2 separate regions of the Homo sapiens genome follow, and region 1 is linked to region 2. The links come from fine-mapping of genetic effects on gene expression. A gene starts in region 2. The other region holds a variant in brackets. All regions are shown on one strand. Distances are between the middles of the regions.

Region 1 (17,215 bases), 52 kb after region 2:
AAAGGGTTTACTCCTTGCATTTCTGAAAATAACTTTATCATCATGTTTATTTGACAATTTGGCCAGGTACAAGGATCAGAAATTCTTTTCCCTCAAAATCCTGTAGACATTTTGTCATTTCTTCTGTTTTCCAATGTTGCCATTAAGAATTTGATGGGCCCGGTGGCTCACGCCTATAACCCCAGCGCCTTGGGAGGCAGAGGCCTGAGGATTGCCTGAGCACAGGAGTTCGAGACCAGTCTGGGCAACATGGCAAGATTCTATCTCTATAAAAATTTAAAAAATTATCTGACTATGTTGGGGCACGTCTGTGGTCCCAGTTACTCGGGAGGCTGAGGCAGGAGGATTGCTTGAGCCCAGGAGGTTGAGGTTGCAGTGAGCCATGTGTGTGCCACTGCACTGAAGCCTGGGTGACAGAGTGAGACTTTCTCTCAAAAAAAAAAAAAAAAAGTTTGAGGTCGTTTTGGCTCATTTTGTCATTTTGTATGTAAGCAATGTTTTTTTTTTTTTTTTTTTTTTTTCTCTCTGGAAGCTTTTAGGATTTTGCTCTTTGTCCCCAGCTTTCTGAAATTGTGCAGTGCTATGCGTGGGTCCAGGTCTGTTTATGTTCATTTTGTTGGCACTTGGTGGGTTGTATCAACCTGGAACTAATAATATGTCCTCAGGTCTAGAAAATTTTCTTGTTTATGTTAAATGTTTTCCTCACATTTTTTTCTTATTCGGGAAATTCTATTGTTTGGATGTTGAGTTTTGGACTTACTTTCTAATTTTACTTACTTTTTCTTTCTTGATTTCTATGTCTTTGTCTTTTTTTCTGGGATGTTTCATCAACTTTTCCTCCAATCCTTCTTTTGAAATTTTAATTTCTGCTATCAAGTTTTGATTTCCAAGTGTTTAGTGTTTAGATTCCTTATAATCCGAATGTTCTTTTTGTTGCTGTAGTAAATAGGTTCCTGTTCTTGCTTCATGGCTGCAATATCTTCTCTTATCTCTCTTTGTACATTACGATAATATTTTGAAAAAGTTTTCCTCTGCACGCTCTTATCTGTCTTTTCTCCAAGTTCCCTTTCTGTCTGGTCTCTTTATTTCACAGTGGGAGCTTTCCTTAAATATCTGGTGGTGCTTGGCTGTCATAGTTAAAGTAAGGCCCTGTGAGCTCATTGGAAACTGTGTGCATTACTGGAACTTTTCAACTAGAGGACTTTGCTGGGGGTGATGGGGATGCCAGATGCCAGCATCTCTAGGCCATGTCTGTTGGTTATGCTCAGTCTCCCCAGATCTCTTATCTCTGACTCAGAGGGTGTAAGCCAGGCTGCTGGTGTCCAGGAAGCTTGGGTGTGTGGGGGCGGGGAATCCCCCTGTCCAGTATGTTGTTTTCAGCATAGAATTGCAACCTGACACTCAGCTGTGCCTGGTTTCCCCAGAAAATAATCTTTATTTTATTTCATTTTATTTTTTTTGAGACGGAGTCTGGCTCTGTCGCCCAGGCTGGAGTGCAGTGGCGCGATCTTGGCTCACTGCAACCTCTGCCTCCTAGGTTCAAGTGATTCTCCTACCTCAGCCTCCCGAGTAGCTGGGACTATAGGCGCCCGCCACCATGCCTGCCTAATTTTTGTATTTTTAGTAGAAACAGGGTTCCACCATATTGGCCAGGCTGGTCTTGAACTCCTGACCTTGTGATCAGCCCACCTCTGCCTCCCAAAGTGCTGGGATTACAGGCGTGAGCCACCGTGCCCAGCCAAAAATAATCTTATATTTCCCCCAGGATTAGGCAGAGGTAATTTCCTGGCTGTGCAGATTGGGGAAAGAGATCTGGGGGTCTAACTGCTGCCTTTAGCTATTTTCAGCTGATTTTCTGTGTCCAATCTTACTCTATGTCTGTGCATTCAGAGGTAATTGGTGCCTTCAATTTTTGAGCTTTTTCAGGACTCTGTTGAAACTATGCCCCAAAGAGAAAGAAACCAATGACTAACAGAAATTCTTAAGTTTGCAGGATGGCAGATAAGAAAAGAAACCTCTTGCTGAAATGCTGAAACTTCCTCTGCTTATGAGATTAAAAAAACTGGCTGAAATCAGTTGGAATCCATATGGCCAGCTGGAGTCTATGCAGAATGAGCCCGCTGACCTCACAGCCTTTCCACTGCACCTTTCACACTAGCGCCCCCCAAATTTGCACCTATGACCCATGAAGAGGCATGAAGATACCACTGTGGAGGCCCGAGGACTTTCCAGACCTTTCCTTCCCTTCCACTAATCACCTATTCATCTCAGAATCCACCCGCTAAACATTTTTTTTTTTTTTTTGAGACGGGAGTCTCGCTCTGTCGCCCAGGCTGGAGTGCAGTGGTGCGATCTCCGCTCACTGCAAGCTCCGCCTGCCGGGTTCACGCCATTCTCCTGCGTCAGCCTCCCGAGTAGCTGGGAATACAGGCGTCTGCCACCACTAATTTTTTTGTATTTTTTAGTAGAGATGGGGTTTCACCGTGTTAGCCAGGATGGTCTCGATCTCATGACCTCGTGATCCGCCCGCCTTGGCCTCGGAAAGTGCTGGGATTACAGGCGTGAGCCACCGCGCCCGGCTTAAACATTTTCTAATGAAGACACTGCCTTAAAGCTGGCACAGAAAGATTTGAGCTGGACTTCTGTCTCCTTGTTGGTCGAACTGCGATAACAAGCTTTCGTTTTCTCAAAAACCTGGTGCCATAGTATCGGCTTCTAGTGCATGGGGCAGCGAGCCCTTTCACTCGGTAACACTGCGTCAGGAACTGGCATGCATTTTGGTGGTCTCACAACCCCAGCTCTGCCCCCCAGCACATCTCGTTGAGAGGTGACAGCGTGCCGGCAGCTCTCGGCGCCTCCTCGGCCTTGGCGCCCACTCTGGCCTTGCTTGAGAAGCCCTTCAGCCCGCCGCTGCACTGCGGGAGCCCCTTTCTGCGCTGGCCAAGGCCGGAGCCGGCACCCTCAGCTTGCGGGGAGGTGTGGAGGGAGAGGCGCGAGCGGGAACAGGGGCTGCGCGCGGTGCTTGCTGGCCAGCGTGAGTTCCGGGTGGGCGTGGGCTCGGCGGACCCCGCACTCGGAGCGGCTGGCCGGCGCCCCCGGCCCGGGCAGTGAGGGGCTTAGTACCTGGGCCAGCAGCTGCTGTGCTCAATTTCTCGCCGGGCCTTAGCTGCCTTCCCGTGGGGCAGGGCTCGGGACCTGCAGCCTGCCGTGCCTGAGCCTCCCCACCCCCGCTCCGTGGGCTCCTGTGCGGCCCGAGCCTCCCCGACGAGCGCTGCCCCCTGCTCCAAGGCGCCCAGTCCAATCGACCACCCAAGAGCTGAGGAGTGCGGGCGCATGGCGCGGGACTGGCAGGCAGCTCCACGTGCGGCCTGCTGCGGGACCCACCCACCGGGTGGGTGAAGCCAGGTGGGCTCCTGAGTCTGGTGGGGACTTGGAGAACCTTTATGTCTAGCTAAGGGATTGTAAATACACCAATCGGCACTCTGTATCTAGCTCAAGGTTTGTAAACACACCAATCAGCACCCTGTGTCTAGCTCAGGGTTTGTGAATGCACCAATCCACTCTGTATCTAGCTACTCTGGTGGGGACTTGGAGAACCTTTGTGTCCACACTCCGTATCTAGCTAGTCTAGTGGGGACATAGAGAACTTTTGTGTCTAGCTCAGGGATTGTAAATGCACCAATCAGCACCCTGTGAAAACAGACCAATCAGCTCTCTGTAAAACGGACCAGTCAGCTCTCTGTAAGATGGACCAATCAGCAGTATGTGGGTGGGGCCAGATAAGAGAATAAAAGCAGGCTGCCCGAGGTCGCAGAAACAACAAGCTGGAACACGTGTGTGCGTGTTGTTTTTTTGTTTTGTTCTTTGTATTTTTTGTTTGTTTGTTTGTGCTGTTTGTAGTAAGTCTGGTCGCTGTTTGGGTCTACACTGCTTTTATGAGCTGTAACGCTCACCGCGAAGGTCTGCAGGTTCACTCCTGAACCGCGAGACCAGGAGGAACAACTCCTCCAGACGCGCTGCCTTAAGAGCTGTAACACCGCGAAGGTCTGTAACTTCACTCCTGAGCCAGCGAGACCACCAACCCACCAGAAGGAAAAAAACTCCCAACACGTCCAAACATTAGAAGGAACGAACTCCGGACACGCTGCCTTTAAGAATTGCTACACTCATTGCGAGGGTCCGCGGTTTCATGCTTGAAGTCGGTGAGCCCAAGAATCCACCAATTTTGGGCCCACCGTTCTCATCATTTTCTAATCTGTTAAGTCGGTTATCACCTGGCTGCTTCCAGGTGACAAAATCTGTTAAATCTCATCTGCAGTTGTAATCTCTCCTACTGTCTTTTTTCTTACGAGTTTATATATTTAAAACAATTTTTTTTTTGAGATGAAGTCTTACTCTGTTGCCCAGGCTGGAGTGCAATGGCGCAATCTTGGCTCACTGCAACCTCCGCCTCCCAGGTTCAAGCGATTCTCCTGCCTCAGCCTTTCCAGTAGCTGGGATTACAGGTGCGTGGCAGTACGCCCAGCTAATTTTTGTATTTTTAGTAGAGACGGGGTTTCACCATGTTGAGCAGGCTGGTCTGGAACTCCTGACCTCGGGTGATCTGCCTGCCTTGGCCTCCCAAGGGCTGGGATTATGGGCATGAGCCACGGCGTCTGGCTTTTTTTTTTTTTTTTTTTTTTTTTTTTTTTTTTTTGGAGACGGAGTTTTGCTCTTGTTGCCCAGGCTGGAGTGCAATGTCGTGATTTCGGCTCACCACAATCTCTGCCTCCCAGGTTCAAGTGATTCTCCTGCGTCAGCCTTCATGAGTAGCTGGAATTACCGGCATGGACCACCATGCCCAACTAATTTTGTATTTTTAGTAGATACGGGGTTTCTCCATGTTGGTGAGGCTGGTCTCGAACCCTCGACCTCAGGTGATCCACCTGCCTCGGCCTCCCAGTGTGCTGAGATTACAGGTGTGAGCCACTGTGCCCCCTCCCCTCCCCTTCTCTCCCCTCCCCCATTTTTTTTTTTTTTTTTTTTTTTTTTTTAATCAGGACCGTCTGCAGTATCTCTTTGGACTGAGAGGTAGTGTTCTCACCCTGGTTGCTGAGGCCAGCTTTCTCAGGCATAGGGTGGAATGGATGGATGTATCACCTTGGGAATAAAAAATGGCAGAGGCCAATCTTCCGTGTGTTTATTTTATGTACTGTGTGTTCTGTGCTTGAGGCAGACTGTAGGGACTTCCACACAACCCTATTCCTTGACTCATCTTTGAGCCACAGCCTACCGTTTGCCCCAAGGAGAGAGTTGCAAAGGCTCTTCCCCGTCTGTCTCTTCACAGGCATTTCAGGTAGCGACATTTGTCAGATATCCTGGTGACAGTTTGACCTGGTACACTCTTGCTCTTTAGCCTCCTCTTTATGTTAAATACTCTGTCTTCAGTTCAACATTTCAGTTAGAACATTTACAAGTATTTTGTTTTTCTTAATCTTACTGCGGTATCTATGGCCCAGTTTACCTTATATTGAATCTCAGGTGTTTCCGAAATTGCACACACATTCACAAGTCATGGGTGGGTTTGGGTGGTCAAAGCTTCTTACTACATCCTTTTTTTTTTTTTTTTTTGAGACAGTCTCCCTCCGTCGCCCAGGCTGGAGTGCAATGGCACGATCTCGGCTCACGCAACTTCCGTCTTCCGGGTTCAAGCAATTCTCTCACCTCTGCCTCCTGAGTAGCTGTGACTACAGGTATGTGTCACCATGTCCAGTTAATTTTCGTATTTTTAGTAGAGACGGGGGTTTCACCATGCTGGCCAGGCTGGTCTCGAACTCCTGACCTCAGGTGAGCTACCCGCCTCAGCCTTCCAAAGTGCTGGGATTACAGGTGTGAGCCACCACGCCCGGCCTATCTTTCACTTTTAAGTTCAAAGTGAAGCAGCTGAACTGAAAACAACTAATTCCATGTAAATTGTTTGCAGGATTAAGTATCATTTTCAAATGACACCATATCACTTGGAATTTCACTAGAAAATCTTCCAGTTGCCAACTCTTTTCTCAGGTTCTGAGGTTTCCAAAAAACCTTATTTCTTTCCAAGTCTCTCAGCAATGCTTTTAATACATTATAGCCAAGTATAACCTTATTACTTCCAAATGACCAAAATCCTGATAACTTCATTCTGAAAACAGGCACAGTTTGAGCCAATATTGTAAATATTTGTTTTTAATAGCTTGACTTATGTCCTGAATAGAACTGAAAACACACACACACACACACACACACACATACACACATTACACATACATAACACACATGGGTTTTATTCATTAGAGTCAGACAGAAAAGAAATCTAATTCATTGAATTTTCCATGTTTAATTTATTTCAAGACGAAGATAAAATCAAAATTTGTCCTACTTGCATTCTTTGGCTTTGTGGTATTTCATATTTTAGTCAATCTTTATTTCTGTAAACATAAATGTACTCATACTTCTTGATTTACCTAGTTCAACCACTGTTCCTCTTAATTTAAAATTATTCAGAAGTTTTCTACAAGGCATTTTTCTTTCATAACCATTTCCTAAACTTTATTTCCACATCAAAGACTTGGGATTTAATAAGAATTCTGGAGTTCTTGAACTCACGTCGTCTTCCTCCGCTTCACCCAGATGATGGACAGTGTATTTAGACCAAGGCTGGAGTCATCGTCATCTTACAGCCAATGATTAAGCCCAGTACTCCTCTCATTTCCTCCAAAAGGGTTGGTTGGACAGGATCCTTCCCTAAGGCCCTTTTTTGGGGGATTATTTCCTGGTTCCTTCTGGTTGTTTAGCAACTGGTTAAATTTCCTCACTCTTTTCTCTGTGATGTCTCCTGTGCTCGACCTACATGACTTCCATCAGTACATATGGCTAATTGATGTTGGGTGGGGCTGGAAAATAATCAGTTAAAGGATGACCTGGAGAGCTATTGGTATATCCTGCCTGTTTTTTGTTTGTTTTTTCACACTAGATTCAGCTAGTGGGCTCCACACATGTTTGTTTGTTTTTTTTTTTTTTTTTTCCTGCAATCTCAGCTCACTGTAAGCTCCGCCTCCCGGGTTCATGCCATTGTCCTGCCTCAGCCTCCCGAGTAGCTGGGACTGCAGGTGCCTGCCACCACGCCTGGCTGATTTTTTTGTAATTTTAGTAGAGACGGGGTTTCACCGTGTTAGCCAGGATGGTCTTGATCTCCTGACCTCATGATCCACCCGCCTTGGCCTCCCAAAGTGCTGGGATTACAGGCTTGAGCCACTATGCCCGGCCACCACACATCTCTTGGCATCCACAAAGTGGAGTGCCACTGGGTGGATGTCTGCCCTGTTTGCAGCTGGTATGCCTTATCCCCTAGGCTTCTGTCTCCTGTAAGGCAAGGGGGCCTGTGGTTTCCGCCAACACTTTGTTTTGTTTTTTCAGATGGAGTCTCGCTCTGTCGCCCAGGCTGGAGTGCAGTGGTGTGATCTGGGCTCACTGCAACCTCCACCTCCCGGGTTCAAGCAATTCTCCTGTCTCAGCCTCTCCGGTTGGTGGGACTACAGGTGTGCACCACTACTCCCAGCTAATTTTTGTATTTTTAGTTTTTTCATAGAGACAGGGTTTCACCATGTTGTCCAGGCTGGTCTCAAACTCCTGACCTCAGGTGATCCACCCGCCTTGGCCTCCCAAACTGCTGGGATTATAGACATGAGCCACTGCGCCTGGCCAACACTTCTTGAGACAAGGAGTGACTTAGTTCATCTCTCCAGGCCTTCTTCTACTTTGTCTTTGACTTCTGCATGTCTGTTCCAGTTATTGCATAATGAATCACTCCAAAATGACGACTGAAGACATCAATCATTATTTTACTATTAGCGTTTAGAGTTTTGACAATTGACAGGGGCTCAGCTAAATTATCCTTACTTGGAGACTTTCATGTGGTTGTAGTTAGACAGTGGCTGAGGCTGGAGTCATCTGGAAGACTTCCTAAGTCATACTGGTGGTCAGTACTGGCTTTTTACCTGGATCTAGAGTTAGGGCTGTCGGCTGGGACATCCACACATGGTCTCTCCATGCCACCTGGGTTTCCTCACAGCATGGTGACCGTTCCAAGAGTGAGCAAAGGCTCACTCACAGAGTTAGCAAGAGTGATCCCAAGGCAGCAAAGTGAAAGGAATTGCATGGCATTTGACCTAGTCTCAGAAGTCACGGCCAGGCGCAGTGGCTCACGCCTGTAATCCCAGCACTTTGGGAGGCTGAGGTGGGCGGATCACGAGGTCAAGAGATCGAGACCATCCTGGCCAACATGGTGAAACCCCGTCTCTACTAAAAAGACAAAAATTAGCCAGGTGTGGTGGTGCATGCCTGTAATCCCAGCTACTTGGGAGGCTGAGGCAGGAGAATCACTTGAACTTGGGAGATGGAGGTTGCAGTGAGCCAAGATTGCGACATTGCACTCCAGCCTGGGCAACAAGAGCGAAACTCTGTCTCAAAAAAAAAAAAAAAAAAAAAAATATATATATATATATATATATATATATAGATTCAATGCAATCCCAATTTTAAAAAAAAGGATTTTAATTATTTATTTTAAGACAGAGTCTCACTCTGTTGTCCAGGCTGGAGTACAATGGCATGATCTTGGCTCACTGCAACCTCCGCCTTCTGGGTTCAAGCAATCCTCCTGCTTCAGCTCCTGAGTAGCTCGGATTACAGGTGCCCGCCACCATGCCCAGCTAATTTTTATATTTTTAGTAGAGACGGAGTTTCACCATGTTGGCCAGGCTGGTCTCGAACTCCTGGGGTTAAGTCACCTTCATGCCTCAGTCTCCCAAAGTGCTGGTATTACAGACGTGAGCCACTGCACCCGGCCAAAAATACAGTAGGAATTTATGCTAATAATTTTTATCAATATCAATAAGCAGATTGCAAAATTTATAGCAAAAGGCTAAGGTAATGGAATATCTAAAATAGTTTTGGAAATGAAGAACGATGTTTCAAGACTAGTACTACCTGATTTCAATACTTATAAAGCTACAGTCATCAAGTCAGTGTAGTATTGGTGGAATGATAAGCACGTAGATCATGGAGAAAAATAGCCCAAACATAGGCATAGGTGTGGTGAAGTGATTTTTGGCAAGGATGCAAAGGCAATTCAATGGAGGAATCAAGAAATGGTGCTGGAATGATATTTGCATATGAATATTCATATGCAAAAAATGAACTTGACCCATTCTTCATACCTCATACAAAATTTAACTCAATGGATCACAGACTTAAATATAAAGTGTGAAATCATAAACTTTCTAGAGAAAACAGGAGAGAATCTTTATGGTCTTTTGTTAGGCATAGGCAAAACACAATCCTTAATGAAAAAAATTGATGAATTGTACTTCATCATAATTCAAAACTACTCTGCTAAAGACACTGCTAAGAGATAAAAAGGCATCTTCACTCTGAGATGCTGCTTGTGGGGAGAAAATGTTTGTAAATCACACGTCTTTCAAAGGACATAATATCTGGCGGGACGCAGTGGCTCACATCTGTAATCCCAGCACTTTGGGAGGCCGAGGAGGGCGCATCACCTGAGGTCAAGAGTTCAAGACCACCAGCCTGGCTAACATGGTGAAACCCTGCCTCCACTAAAAATGCAAAAATTAGCCGGGGCATGGTGGCACATGCGTGTAATTCCAGCTACTTGGGAGGCTAAGGCAAGAGAATCGCTTGAACCGGGGAGGTGGAGATTGCGGTGAGCCGAGATTGCGTCACTGCACTCCAGCCTGGGTAATAGAGTGAGACTCCATCTCAAAAAAAAAATAAAAATAAATAAATAAAAAAGGACTTAATATCTAAAATATTGCTCCACGCTGGGCAGACTTACGCAAACCTATCTGCAAAAGTCTGAGGAAGCTGAGAGGCCGAAGAAAGAGGCTGACATATCTAGTTTCTCAGAAACATTTAATAGAAACTTAGGAACAGAAGCCACATCTGTGTCTCAGGTGGTGGTGAGACAAGATCGTGGATCCCCTCTCCACTACTCCCTAGACCCAGGCCTTATATATCATACGGAAAGGGTGCATGCTTCAGAAGGGATGTATAGGACAATTGCTGAAGGGCAGGCTTTATGGTAAGTACATACTCTTACACAAGGAACAATAGGTAAACTGGAAATCTTACAGGCTCCTTGAACTGTGGTTAATCAAAAGTCTACATGAGGCCGGGCACGGTAGCTCACGCCTGGAATCCTAGCACTTTGGGAGGCCAAGGCAGGTGGATCACTTGACGTCAGGAGTTTGAGACCAGTCTGGCGCATACTGGTCTCAGTGTGAACATAGTGAACCCTGTCTCTACTAAAAATACAAAAATTAGCTGGGCGTGATGGTGCATCCCTGTAATTCCAGCTACTTGGGAGGCTGAGGCAGGAGAATCACTTGAACCCAGGAGGCAGAGGTTGCGGTGAGCCGAGATCGCACCACTGCACTCCAGCCTGGGTGACAAAATGAGACTCTGTCTCTACAAAAAAAAAAAAAAAAAAAAGTCAACATAGCTGCTTAGCATCCAAGCTGGAGTTGCTCCACAAATATATAAATAACTCAAAACTCAACAACGAGGAAAAAAAAAAATCCACACAAGTTTGAATAGATACTTCACCAAAGTAGATATACAAATGTCAAATAAACACTTGAAAAGATGCTCAGTATAGTCAGTCATTAGCAAAATGTAAATTAAAACCATAACGGCATACCAGTGTATACCTATTAGAATGGCTAATCCCTCCCCACTCCCCCACAAACCATCCCTTGCATCCAAAACAAACAGTACCAAGTACTGGTGAGAATACAGAGCAGCTGGAACTGTCATACATCGCTAGTGAGAGACTGACTATACAAAAGGACAATGGACAGAATCAAATATAAACACAGACCTTTGTCCCATAACCTCTGTAGCAACCAGCCCTGGAAGGAAGCCAAACAAATCCTCTACAGCAATTGGCCTCAAACAGTAAGGGCTTGGTCAATAACTGCCAGATTTCTTCATTTCTGTCTCCACTTCCACTTAGGACCAACTGAGAAAGGCAAATATGCACCCCTAATCAATCATATAGCCTGCTCTGCTTCTAGTTCTGCTTATAGCTTCTCGGCGCCAACAGCCTCCAATCAGCTTGTTCTTAGGAAATCAGAAGTGGGAGGACCACTGAACCCCACTCCCTGACATCTTGATTGTTGAGAATTTGCCCTTAGAGGCTGAGCCAGATTCACATCAATTTCTGCTCCAAAATCTAAGGTGGTTCCTCCAGGAACAACTCTGTTTTATTTTATTTTCTAAGGTAGAAGATACCCTCTCCCTCTCTTGTGTGAATTCAGGAAGATCTTCAGCTTATTCTGAAGTCTGAATTTTCCCAGTGAAGCTCCTCTGTAAATTACCATCTTCCTCTAACCGATCCTTGTTTTCCAAACTGCATTCCATATTATTTGGTGCTTTTGTTCATCTAAAGCTCCTCTAGCCTTAACCCACACGGGCAGAGTGGTTTTTCCTCCTGCTTGTGGGAGTATGTTTATCTGAAGTCTGATGTCCAAACCCTGTATCTTTTTGAGAATTGTTGGGCAATGGTAGA[G/A]TTGAAGGCATTGACAGCTTGGAGGTCAATTTCAATTTTTAACACTGGGCAGAAAAAAATTCCACTGATCGTTTGCTTCTTTCCCTCAGGCCTACATTTCAGTGACATGTTCTTTGTTTTGTTTTGAGACACAGTCTCGCTCTGTTGCCCAGGCTGGAGTGCAGTGGCGCAATCTCGGCTCACTGCAAGCTCCACCTCCCAGGTTCAAGCCATTCTCCTGCCTCAGCCTCCCAAGTAGCTGGGATCACAGGTGCGCACCATCATGACTGGCTAATTTTTGTATTTTTAGTAGAGATGGGGTTTCACCATGTTGGCCAGGCTGGTCTCGAACTCCTGACCTGATCAGGTGATCCGCCTCAGCCTCCCAAAGCATTGGGATTCCAGGCGTGAGCCACCGCGCCCAGCTGAGAAGCAATATTTGACATTCTCGACACCACTTTGACAAAATAATACTTGTAAAGTACGATATTAACATATTTTTTTGATTTTGTTTTTTCAGAGACAGGGTCTCCCTCTGTTGTCCAGGCTGGAGTTCACAGGCACAATCATAGCTCACTGCAGCCTCGAACTCCTGGGCTGAAGTGATCCTTGCATCTCAGCTTCCCACACAGCTGGGATTACAGGCAAACACCATCATGCCCAGCTAATATTTTTTATTTTTGTTTTTATTTTTTGAGATGGAGTCTCGCTCTGTCACCTAGGCTGCAGTGCAGTGGCCACGATCTCGGATCATTGCAACCTCTGCCTCCTGGGTTCAAGTGATTCTCATGCCTCAGCCTCCCAAGTAGCTAGGACTATAGTTGCCCACCACCATGCTCGGCTAATTTTTGTATTTTTATTAGAGACAGGGTTTCATTATGTTGGCCAGGCTGGTCTCGAACTCCCAACCTCAGGTGATCCACCCGCCTTGGCCTCCCAAAGTGCTGGGATTACAGGCGTGAGCCACCGCACCCGGCCAATTTTTATTTTTGTAGAGACAGAATCTCACGATGTTGCCCAGGCTGGTCTCCTGAGCTCAAGTGATCCTCTCGCCTCAGACTCCAAAAGTGCTGGGATTCCAGGTAGGAGCCACTGCACCCAGTGGACACATGTATCTTTATGATCCTGGTACTTTCATAATCTCAGCTGGGGCTTACTGCACTTGAGCTCAGTTTTGGATTTTTGAGTTTCAAAAACCCAGGCATTAGGAGGCCCATGGAGAAGCAAAGTCCACATCCAGGGTCTTCTCTGCACTTACCTTGGAAATATCATCTGATGTCAGTGTCCTGGAGCCATATCGGGACAGAGAGGGTACACATAAGTGACCAGTGGACATCACCTGCATAGAAAAGCTTTGTTCGTTGTCCAAGCCTGTCGCTTTGACTGCAGCCAATGTGTCACTTATTGACTGGCCCTCTCCTGTCCCTGCTCAGCTCATCTGAACCACTTCAGGTGGATGCCTCTTCTTTCAACATCAACATTATTTGTCAGTTGCTTTGCTGACTGATCCGTTTTCTAACAGTACTTCTATGGACTTTACAAAGTCTTCTAATGTTTCAAGACTTGAAATTTCACTCTGTAGCCAGTTAGATGGACAAAGGTAGCTGGCATTAATAAAGCAGGAAGAACCGGGTGCAGTGGCTCACGCCTGTAATCCCAGCACTTTGGGAGGCCGAGGCGGGCCGATCACCTGAGCTCAGGAGTTTGACACCAGCCTGGGCAACACAGTGAAACCCTGTCTCTATCAAAAATACAAAAAATCATCCAGGCATAGCGGCAAGCGCCTGTTTTCCCAGCTACTCGGGAGACTGAGGCAGGAGAATTGCTTGAACCTGGGAGGTGGAGGTTGCAGTGAGCCGAAATCGCACCATTGCACTCCAGCCTGGGTGACAGAGCGAGACTCTGGGTCAAAAACAAACAAACAAACAAACACAAAAAAACAAAAGCCACAAAAAAAAAAAAGGAGGAAGAGGTGAGTGAACTAATTTTGAAAGTGGTCAGTTCATTGAATATTTTTTGGCTTTACATAAGCTTGGGAGTTTGAGGATTCAGAAAATAAGCATGCAGACCGTATTAGTTATCTATTTCTGCTTTACAACGACCTCAAAACTCAGTGGTGTGATGGCACATGCCTGTGGTCCCAGCTACTTGGGAAGCTGAGGTGGGAAGATCACTTGAGCCTGGGAGGTGGAGGCTACAGTCAGCTGTGACCATGCCACTGCACTCCAGCTTGAGTGACAGAGCAAGACCCTGTCTCAAAAACAAAACAAAACAAAAAACACCCATTACCTTACACAGTTTTGGGAGTCAGTTGGTTCTAGTTCAAGAGTCTTATGAGGTTTCAGTCAAGAGATTGGCTGTAGTCATCTGAAGTCTTAACCGGGGCAGGAGGATCTGTTTCCAAGATGGCTGCCCCACGTGGTTGGTAGTTGGAGGGTTCAGTTCCTCACTGGCTCGTAGCAGGAGGGCTCAGTTCCTTGCCACGTGGACCTCTCCATAGAGTTTCTTGAGTGACCTCATGACATAGTAGTTAATTTCTCTCAGAGAAAGCAGAACAAGAAAGAGGGAGAGTGGGGAGGGAGGAGACGGAAAGCCCTAATGTCTTTTAGGACCTAGCTTTGGAAGTCACACACATCATTTCATACTGCATTGGCTTTGCAGACCAACCCAGACACAATGTAGGAGACTATGGAAAGGCATGCATATCAGGAGGTCGGAATCACTGGGGGATGTTTTAAAGAATGGCCACCACGAGCATGCCCTCTGAATTCTGGTGATTTACATTCCTTCCACATGCAAAATACACTCGCTCCCTCTCAAGCTACCCCAAAGTCGAATCCCATTATAGCATCAGCTCAAAGTCTAGAATTTCATCATCTAAATCAGGTCCATGTATAGATGAGATTTCTCAACTGTATTACCTTAAGTATACTTCCAGAATACAATTCCTCCTCTTCTTTTTTTTTTTCTTTTTTAAAGAAGTTTCACTCTGTTGCCCAGGCTGGAGTGCAGTGGCACGATCTCAGGTCACTGCAATCTCTGCCTCTGGGGTTCAAGCGATTCTCCTGCCTCAGCCTCCTGAGTAGCTGGGATTACAGGTGTCCACCACCATGCCTGGCTACTTTTTGTATTTTTAGTAGAGATGAGGTTTCACCATGTTGGTCAGGCTGGTCTTGAACTCCTGAACTCAGCTGATTCTCCCACCTCGACCTCCCAAAGTGCTGGGATTACAGGCATGAGCCACCGTGCCTGGGCTCCTCTTCTTCTGAAGACCTGTAAACTAAAGAGAAAGTCATCTGACCCCACCCCCAACATACAATGTTGGAACAGGCATAGGCTAACCACCATAGATATCCCTATCCAAGACGGGAAGAAATGGCCTGGGTCTTTCCTCTCCCATCACAACTGCATCATAATCTAACCTCACTCAGTCTACCCACAAGTTACTGTGAATTACTTTTGGAAGCCTTCCCAACTCTTCAATCACACTTTTAATCTGCAAGAAAATTACTGGGTTTGTGCCATTTCTATGGAAGATGAATTTTACCCACCACATTTTGATTTTTCTGAATTTCACTTATAAAAAAAACCTTTTGGTTGGGCACGGTGGCTCACACCTGTAATCCCAGCACTTTGGGAGGCTGAGGCAGGCTGATCACATGAGGCCAGGAGTTCGAGACTAGCCTGGCCAACATAGCGAAAACCCATCTCTACTAAAAATACAAAAAATTAGCCGGGCATGGTGGCAGGCGACTGTAATTCCAGCTACTCGAGAGACTAAGGCAGGAGAATTGCTTGAGCCCGGGAGGCAGAGGTTTTAGTGAGCCAAGATCGCGCCACTGCACTCCAGCCTGGGCGACAAGAGCAAAACTCCTTCTCAAAAAAAGAAAAAAAAAAAAAGCTCAACTTTACTCATAATAAGGGTAATGCAAATTAAAATTAAAACTAGGGTACCATTTTTCACCTATCCGATTGGCTAAGGTAAGGTTATGAACACACCATTGGCAAGAGTGAGGAAGAATGGGCATTCTCATACACAGTCCACTGGTGGGAGTCTAAATCAGTACAACTTTCTACAGAGGGCAATTGAGCAGTTTCTGCCTAAATTCGATATGCTTTTGGTCCAGAAATTCTATCTCCAGGGTTTTGTTCTACAGAGATACTTTCATACGAGAAATGCTGTATATGCGAGGTTTATTTCTTTCAGCACTTTTTCATAGCTACAAAAGATTACTAATAACCTGTGTCCACTACAAGAGACTAGTAGAATTTATGGCGTTACAGCAAATGGCAGCCTTAGCAAAGAACAAGGAAGCTCTTTATGCATGGATATGGAATGACCTCCTGTTGCACTATGGAAAAACGAGATGCAGAATAAGGCATGCTACAATGTGCAGAAAAAGACAAAGATAGGCGTGTATTTGCTCAGTAATATTAGTGCACAGAAGAGACTGGTAACTGTGATTGCTGGGAGTGGAGCAACTGGGTGGCTTGGGGCCAAGAGGAGGGAGAAACTAGTGAATATCACTTTGTACCTTTTGAATTTTGAATCACATGAATGTACTTCCCAGTAAACAATTAAGCAGGGCCGGACATGATGGCTCATGGCTGTAATCCCAGCACTTGGGGAGGCCGAGGCAGGTGGATCACTTGAGGTCAGGAGTTCAAGACCAGCCTGGCCAACATGGTGAAACCCCATCTCGACTGAAAATACAAAAAGTAGCCGGGCATGTTGGTGGGTGCCTGTAATCCCAGCTACTCTGGAGGCTGAGGCAGGAGAATCGCTTGAACCCGGCAGGTGGAGGTTGCAGTGAGCCGAGATCACACCACTGTACTCTAGCCCGGGCAACAGAGCAAGACTCCATCTCATTAAAAAAAAAAACACCAAAAACAAAAAACAAGCAAACCAGAAAATATGCATCACAGACATATTTTCGTGGACTTCATTTGTGTTACCAGGCTGATTGTAATCCATGCCATGAAGTTTATGTTAGTATTCCCCTTTTGTTTACATTGCCTGATAATTTGTTTCCCTTTGTCTCCCCCAAGGGAAGCATTCATTTATAATGAATTTTTCAGCTCAGTGTGTTTCAGCAAACACTTATTGACACCCACAAACCCTGACACTGTGCCGTCTCCAGGGGAAACAAAAGTGAGAGTCCTGCTGGGTGTGTAGTCCCTGCCTAGGACGGGCTCACATTAGTGGGGGATACACACATACAAATGCTCACACTGCAGTATTAACTGTGCAACAGTAGAAGTGTGCGCAAGGAGAAAAGTGTTAGAAAGGAAAGCTGGGCCGGGCGCCGTGGCTCACACCTGTAATTCCAGCACTTTGGGAGACTGAGGTGGGTGGATCACAAGGTCAGGAGTTCAAGACCAGCGTGGCCAACATGGAGAAACCCCGTCTCTACTAAAAATACAAAAATTATCCAGGCATGGTGGCAGGCGCCTGTAATCCCAGCTACTCGGAAGGCTGAGGCAGAGAATTGCTTGAGCCCGGGAGGCAGAGGTTGCCGTGAGCCGAGATCGTGCCATTGCACTCCACCCTGCATTCCAGGGTGACAGAGTGAGACTCTATATCTCAAAAAAAAAAAAAAAAGGAAAGCTAATTCACTCTGGTGGGGT
Region 2 (8,255 bases):
TCAACAAAACCCCTGCCTCTTGGGTTCAAGCAATTCTGTGCCTCAGCCTCGTGAGTATCTGGTATTACAGACACCTGCAATGCCTGGCTACTTTTTGTATTTTTAATAGAGACGGGGTTTCACCATGTTGGCCAAGCTGGTCTCGAACGCCTGACCTTGTGTTCCACCTGCCTCAGCCTCCCAAAGTGCTGGAATTGCAGGTGTGAGCCACCGCGCCTGGCTGGGCAGAAGTTGAGAAAGGGCATTTCAAAGAGAGAGACAAGGCACGTCCTGTTGCGTAGTGTTGGTGGGGAAGTCTGGAACAGGCTGTGGAGGATTTTGTATAGCAGATGGAGTGAGATGGAGGGCCCCACAGAAGGACATGTGGAACCAGTACTGGTTTTTAAAGCAGAGGGGGTTGGGTGCAGTGGCTCACGCCTGTAATCCCAGTACTTTGGGAGGCCGAGGGGGGTGGATCACCTGAGGTCAGGAGTTCGAGACCAGTCTGGCTAACATCGTGAAATTTAGCCTATAATCCCAGCTACTCGTGAGGCTGAGCCAGAAGAATCACTTGAACCTGGGAGACGGAGGTTGCAGTGAGCTGAGATCGTGCCGTTATACTCCAGCCTGAGTGAGAATAGTGAAACTTCGTCTCAAAAACAAACGGGCCGCGCGTGGTGGCTCACGCCTGTAATCCCAGCACTTTGGGAGGCTGAGGTGGGCGGATCACGAGGTCAGGAGATCAAGACCATCCTGGCTAACGTGGTGAAACCCTGTCTCCACAAAAAAGTACAAAAAATTAGCCGGCATGGTGGCAGGCGCCTGTAGTCCCAGCTACTTGGGAGGCTGAGGCAGGAGAATGGCCTGAACCTGGGAGGCAGAGCTTGCAGTGAGCCAAGATCGCGCCACTGCACTCCAGCCTGGGTGACAGTGCGAAACTCCATCTCGAGGAAAAAAGAAAACAAAAAACCTCCGAAAAACGAAAAATGAGCCAAATATAGTGGCTAGTGCCTAGAGTCTCATGTACTAGGGAGGCTGAGGTGGGAGGATCGTTTGAGCTGGGAGGTCAAGGCTGCAGTGAGCTGTGATCATGCCACTGCACTCCAGCCTGGGGAAATATTTTTTCAGCACCTTTTATGTACCAGGCACTGTTCTAGGTGATAGGAATAGCATAGTGTAGGAGACAGGAGCCCTTTCATGGAGTTTGTATTTTAGACAAGAGATAGTTAATAAGAAAGCAAATTTCTGGTAATGACATGAATTATAAACAGGCAAATGTGATGGAGGCTGATGGGGGTTGGAGTGGGAGCTACCGAAAAAGAAGTCGTCTCAGGATGGCAAAATGGCGTTAGTTACATAGAATCAAAGGACAGTTTCTCCAGCATAATCAGCAACATGTGCAAAGGTTCGGATGTGAGAATGGGCTTTGCTGGAAAATAGAAGGCTAGCGTGGCTCAAGAATAGGAAGAGAGAAGGAAAAGGGTACTTGTGGTATGTGTTGAGGTCAGGGAGGTGGGTATGAGTCAGATTGGGTGGATTCTTTTAGGCCTCAGTGACGAGATGGGATTTCATTCTCATCACATTTGGAAGCCACAGAGGGGTTGAAGCTAGGAGTGACAACAACTTGTTTACATTTGAAAAGACCACTTTGGTTGCTGTGTGAAGGGACTACAGGGTGCTAAGAGGGAAGCAGAGAGCAACGAAGGCTTTGTAATAGACTAGGTGAGAGTGAATGGTAATTTGGACCGGAGCGGCAGTGGAGATGGAGAAAAATTAACGCTATTGGGTTAATGTATTTTGGAGGCCTTGAATGCCAGGACTTGAAGGATTGGATAGGAGGCAATAAGAGGAAAAACGGGCCAGGTGGGGTGGCTCACACCTGTAATCCCAGGACTTTGGGAGGCTGAGGCCGGCAGATCACTTGAGGTCAGGAGTTTGAGACCAGCCTGGCCAACATGGTGAAGCCCCGTCTCTACTAAAAATACAAAAATTAGCTGGGCATGGTGGTGGGTGCCTGTACTTCCAGCTACTTGGGAGGCTGAGGTAGGAGAATCACTTGAACTTGGGAGGCGGAGGTTGCAGTGAGCCGAGATCGTGCCATTGCACTCTAGCCTGGGCGACAGAGAGACTCCTCAAAAAAAGAAAAATGATGACTCTTGGATTTGAATCTAACAATCACAAAAGTACACAAACATAAACATAGAGGTATTAGCGTGTTCACTACAGTTTGCATTAGCAAAAAGCTGGAGCAGCCTTTAAGCATTAATTCAGCAATAGAATTATTAAATCATGGTGCACCCATTTCATTCATACCACAGTTTAAAAAACAGCATAAAGAAGGCCATGAGTGAAAACAAGCCACACGCAGACCCCAATCTTGTAAAATATTCATTTATGTGCTTGTGCATAGACTAATATTAGGAAAGTATACACGCTACTGGGGCAGGGCTTTGCGGGGGAGGAGCAGTTTTTCTTTTTACTTTATGCCTTTCTGTACTGTTTGAATTGGCTTTTGCAAGGCGCACGTCTTGTATCATTTCTGAAGTTGCAAATGTAGTTAAAAATGTCTGTGATTTCAAGTTACCTAGAGAGTTATTGATTCCTTCTCTTTCCCTGCCGCTGCCGAGTTGCGCGGAGGCGGAGGCTTGGGTACCTTCAAGATTCAGCTTCACTTGTAACCCACCGCCACGGCCGAGGAAGGCATTGCTGCTGGAGGGGTAATGGATGTTAATACTGCTTCACAAGAGGTGCTGAAGACCGCTCTCATCCACCATGACCTAGCACGTGGAATTCGCGAAGCTGCCAAAGCCTTAGACAAACGCCAAGCCCATCTTTGTGTGCTTGCATCCAACTATGATGAGCCTACTATGTATGTCAAGTTGGTGGAGGCCTTTGTGCTGAACACCAAATCAACCTAATTAAGGTTGATGACAACAAGAAACTAGGAGAATGGGTAGGGCTCTGTAAAAATCGACAGAGAGGGGAAACCCCGTAAAGTGGTTGGTTGCAGTTGTGTAGTAGTTAAGGACTATGGCAAGGAGTCTCAGGCCAAGGATGACATCGAAGAGTACTTGAAATGCAAGAAATGAAGAAATAAATCTTTGGCGCGCGTACACACACACACACGTTACTGATTCCTAGGCAGGGTGCGGTGGCTCATGCCTGTAATCTCAGCACTTTGGGAGGCCAAGGCGGGCGGAACACCTGAGGTCAGGAGTTCAAGACCATCCTGGCCAACATGGTGAAACCCCATCTCTACAAAAATACAAAAAAAATTAGCCGGGCGTGGTGGCGCGCGACTGTAATCCCATCTACTCGGGAGGCTGAGGCAGGGAAATCGCTTGAACCTGGAAGGTGGAGGTTGCGGTGAGCCGAGATCGCGCCACTGCACTCCAGCCTGGGCCACAGAGCGAGACTCCGTCTCAAAAAAAAAAAATGAGAGTTATTGATTCCTACAGCGAAGATGTCCCAAGACTCCGTCCGCTAAATGGAAATCGTTCCGACTTTGGCGCCTTTTGTCCGGACCACGTGTACCTTTAACATCACAGGACCGCCTCGGACACGCTCACAGGCAGCCTCATCCGCCATCACTCCGGGAACCGAGCACCCCGCTGCCTCGGCGCCCAGGCTGCTCTCTCCGCGCATGCTCCTTCCCAGCTTGAGCCCGCGAGTCCAGCCTGCCTTCACTCAGTGCGCAAGACCGCAGCCCCCTCCCCACGCCCCCTCCCCAGTAGGCGGCCGTCGCGGTGTGTTTGCGTCATCGCGCCACGCCACCACTGGAACCCGGGGGAAGATGGCGGCAGCCGTTCTGAGTGGGCCCTCTGCGGGCTCCGCGGCTGGGGTTCCTGGCGGGACCGGGGGTCTCTCGGCAGTGAGCTCGGGCCCGCGGCTCCGCCTGCTGCTGCTGGAGAGTGTTTCTGGTTTGCTGCAACCTCGAACGGGGTCTGCCGTTGCTCCGGTGCATCCCCCAAACCGCTCGGCCCCACATTTGCCCGGGCTCATGTGCCTATTGCGGCTGCATGGGTCGGTGGGCGGGGCCCAGGTGAGTCCGTGGCCCGCGTGCCCGCGGCCCTGTGGGGAGGATGGCGCGGCACCTGTGCGCCGGGATTACGGTGCAGTGCAAGTGCGATAGGGAGGTTGAAGGAAGGAGAGCTGCGGGCAGAAAGGGGATCCAGGTATCAGTCCGGACGGGATGCACGTATTTCTCCTTTATCGGCCATGAGTTTCTCCAGGGGAAAAATGGGCCTTATTTTTCTGTTGTTAGGCTATTGGTCGGCACACAGGAATCGATTAGGTTCCAGGCCCGGTCACTCACTAGTTGTATAATCTAAAAGTCTCTTTTTCCTCTGGCAATATCTGTTTCGGGGATTGTTTCGACTGACTGAATGACGCATTCAACAATAAACATTTACCGAGCTCTTATTGAGGGTCAGATACTGTACTAGGCGCTCCGGTTACAGACGTGGTGGCGATACACAAAATGCTGCGAAACAAGATGAGAATTGAATATCAGGGGTCTCTAACCTTATCTGAAGACTGGCAGAGATTTTTCCAAAGAAACCGGCGTTTAAGCTGAGACCCTAAGGATGAATAGGGGTTGGGTAGGGAAAAAATATGGGAGGGGCTGTTCAGTCAGAGGAGAGCTCATGTGGGAAGACCCTGTGGTAGGAAGGAACTGGAAAGAAGGGCATCGTTCCTGGGGCTCAGATGTGGAGGGGAAGAGAGTGGGTACAGATGAGACTGGTGAGATGGGTAGGCAGTGGTCGGGTCATGCAGAGCGTTTTAGGCCGGGTTAGGAGCCTTTGGACTTCTATAAGAATGGAATCTGATAACCATTCAGTTCTGCAAGCTAGACACTCAAGTAATTCTAAACTCTTCTTCATACACCTCCATAAGCAATCTGTCAAGTCCTGTTGATTTTATCCTTTGAGTAGTTTTCAGATCTGTCCACTCTTTTCCATCTTTCTCATTGCTCCCATTCTAGCTTGAACCCCCACCATCTTGTCCGGGTGAAGGCACTGATTCTAAGAAGGCATATTTCTAGCCCATAATAGCTGCTCCTTATAACAATCTCCTATCTTCCCTTCTCTCCCACTAAACCTCCCCCAAATTCTACCCATCCTTCAAGACCCATAAACACGAGATCTTCTGTGTCCACCCTTCATTCCTGGGACCTTCCTAGCTCTATGCTACCTTCCAGGAAGATGGTTGTCACAATTTGCTGGGTGGGTCAATAACCTTAGCCCCAGATTTATCACAGATAACCCTATCTGTTTGTCTTTAACATTACTCTGCATAATTGAGGGTGACAAAACTATATCTCTGCTATCTCAGCCCAATATCAGAGGCTGGAGCTGATTATGTATTTTCTCTTGTCTCTAAATTCCCCTCTTCTAATTTATGTGGTTTTCATCAGTCAGTTATATTACAGTGGGGTTTTTCTGTTTTCTTTATCTCACAATAGTCCCAGAATTATTATTATTTTTGAGACAAGGTCTTACTCTGTCACCCAGGTTGGAGTGCAGTGGCATGATCTTGGCTCACTGCAACCTCCATTTCCCAGCCTCAAGGGATCCTCCCACCTCAGCCTCCAGAGTAGCTGGGACCACAGGCATGCGCCACCATGCCCGGCTAATTTTTGTATTTTTGGTAGAGACGGGGTTTTGCCATGTTGCCCAGGCTGGTCTCAAAGTCCCGAGTTCAGGCGATTCACTTGCCTTGGCTTCCCAAAGTGCTGGAATTACAGGCACGGGCCACCATGCCTTGCCCCCCAGAAATTTTTTTTATAAGTATTTGTGAAATATTACCTATCCCGCCTATAAATGTGTGATTTCTTTCATCATCTCTTTCAGGACTTCCTCTCCTCCCTCAAAGTCAACTACATGAACTTAACGTCTTGCTTATTTTTCTTACATGTCTGAAGTCTAGTAGAATTTTGAGTAAAGAAGCTAAGAGTGATGTGGGAAACTAGGGCCGCCCTTTAATATTTCCTGTGCTACTTGTTTAGATACATCCTGCCTTGAATTTTTTTTCTACTTGTGTCCTTTGAATTGGGATTATGTGGAGGATTTCCTTTCCTTCCCCAAAGGTTTCATTCAACAAACATTTATTGAGTATCTGTTATGTTTTACGTACTGTTCCTCGTCTCTAGGTAGATAAATAAGACATGGTCCTTTCCCTCAGAGAATTTCTAGTCTAGTTAAGATGAGAAATGAAAGTCAGCAATAGACCTGGAGCTTGCGAGCAAGGGGGATCCACTGTTTGATCATCCACCTACCAACATGGCTTTTCCGCAGGTACTGCAAGCTCAGTAGTTCCAAAATGGAATGATCCTAGCACAGTGCTCCATATCTAGCTTGGAGTATATTATAGCAACAATCTTCTAACGGGTCTCCTTACCTTCAGTCTTGCCCTCTGTAATCCGTTCCCCACACAGTAGCTGGAGTGAGCTTTCTAAAGTAAAATTCTGATCCTGTTTGCAGCTTTTAAAAATCCTTCAGCCTCTGGGTGTTCTTTCCTCAGAGGCTTTGTACTTACTCTTCTCTTGGAATCCCTCCCTGTGCAGTGCCCCCACCCCCCCAACTCTCATCCTCCTTCCCAGTCTTCTCAATTCTTTGCTTATTTGTCACTGCCTTTGGGATATATTTCTTGGCCACCTATGATTGACTGCTCTTTATCCTACTGTCTGTTTATTTATTTCACATATACTTATAACCTCTCTCCCCTACATTCAGCAAGTCTTTGATTTGTTCTTGTATGTAATTAATAAAACTTATATAAAATTTCAGACATAAATAGTATTTTCCCCACCCCACCCTATGCTGCCCCCATCACTCAAATTTAACAGTGAACGTTTGCCAATGTTATTTCATTCCTCCCATAGCTTGGCTTTTTTTTTTTTTTTTTTTTTTTAGTGGAACTTTGCTTTTTCTTTCTTTCTCTTTTTCTTTTCTTTTCTTTTCTTTTTTTTTTTTTTGAGATAGGGCCTTACTCTAACTCAGGCTGGAGTGCAGTGGCCAGATTATGGCTCACTGCGGCCTTGGCCTCAACCTCCCAGGTTCAAGTAATCCTTCCACCTCAGCCTCCCGAGTAGCTGGGACTACAGGTGTGCCACCACCCCTGGCTAATTTAAAAATTTTTTTTGTAGACATGGGGGCTTTATATGTTGTCCAGGCTGGTCTTGAACTCCTGAACTCAAGTGATACTCCCGCCTTGGCCCCCCAAAATCCTGGGATTACAGAGGTGAACCACCGTGCTCAGCTTGGTGGACCATTTTAAAGCAAATCCCAAATGTCATTTATCCTGTATATTCTTTTGAAGGACAAAAACAGTGTCTTGTTCTGTCTTCTACGTAGGCCTCAGCCTCCTGAGTAGCTGGGATTACAGGCACCTGCCACCATACCCAGCTAATTTTGTATTTTTAGTAGAGACGGAGTTTCACCATGTTGGTCAGGCTGGTCTCGAACTTCTGACCTCAAGTTATCCTCCCCACTCGACCTCCCAAAGTGCTGAGAATACAGGCATGAGCCACCACATCCGGCCACTTTTTGTCGTATTTTAGAGTGTACTCCTACTTAAATAAAAAAATCTTCCTGCCTCAGCCTCCCAAAATGTTGGGATTACAGGGATGAGCCACTGCACCTGGCCTCTCTTTTTGTTGGATCATTTTCATCAGCATACAGGCTCAAAACTTCATCCTCGGCCAGGCGTGATGGCTCACGCCTGTAATCCCAGCACTTTGGGAGGCCAAGGTGGGTGGATCACAAGGTCAGGAGTTTAAGACCAGCCTGGCCAAGATGGTGACCCCGTCTGTATTAAAAATACAAAAATTAGCCAGGCGCAGTGGCAGGCATCTGTAATCCTGTAATCCCAGCCATTCAGGAGGCTGAGGCAGGAGAATCGCTTGAACTCGGGGCAGAGGTTGCAGTGAGCCGAGATCGCGCCTCTGCACTCTAGCCTGGGTGATAGAGTGAAACTCTGTCTCAAAAAAAAAAAAAAAAAAAAAAATCACCCTCTAGGGCTGGGTGCAGTGACTCACATCTGTAATCCCAGCACTTTGGGAGGCTGAGATGGGTAGATCATTTGATGCCAGGAGTTCGAGACCAGCCTGACCAACATGGCGAAACCTCATCTTTACTAAAAATGCAAAAATTAGCTGGGCGTGGTGACGCATGCCTGTAATCCCAGCTAATCAGGAGACTGAGGCAGGAGAATTGCTTGAGCCTGGGAGGCAGACATTGCAGTGAGCCGAGATTGCGCCTGCGAACTCTGGCCTG

Alleles and levels. Alleles are on the strand shown, and positions count from the first base shown. SD is a standard deviation of normalised expression in the study named.
In carriers of allele G in region 1, the expression in subcutaneous fat of the gene that starts at base 3,654 in region 2 tends to be lower than with A alone (large effect, 1.0 SD a copy in GTEx).

What was found. PIP is the estimated chance that this variant, and not a neighbour inherited with it, causes the effect.
Region 1: its variant is fine-mapped to the expression of PELP1-DT in subcutaneous fat (GTEx, PIP 0.98).

The regions. Positions count from the first base shown.
Region 1 is chr17:4,642,661-4,659,875 of GRCh38, reverse strand. LOC105371499 (a long non-coding RNA gene) reads right to left here and starts at 14,867. Exons shown (of 3, transcript XR_001752768.2): 1 at 13,877-14,867; 2 at 12,846-12,926. RefSeq lists enhancers at 1,588-1,757, 2,813-2,982 and silencers at 10,077-10,292, 11,468-11,762. The variant G/A (reference allele first, on the strand shown) is at 11,609.
Region 2 is chr17:4,699,629-4,707,883 of GRCh38, reverse strand. PELP1-DT (PELP1 divergent transcript) reads right to left here and starts at 3,654. Exons shown (of 2, transcript NR_103482.1): 1 at 3,514-3,654; 2 at 2,355-2,685. It overlaps PELP1 (proline, glutamate and leucine rich protein 1), which reads left to right and starts at 3,747. Exons shown (of 17, transcript NM_014389.3): 1 at 3,747-4,021. The coding sequence starts at 3,773. It also overlaps the pseudogene RPS12P29.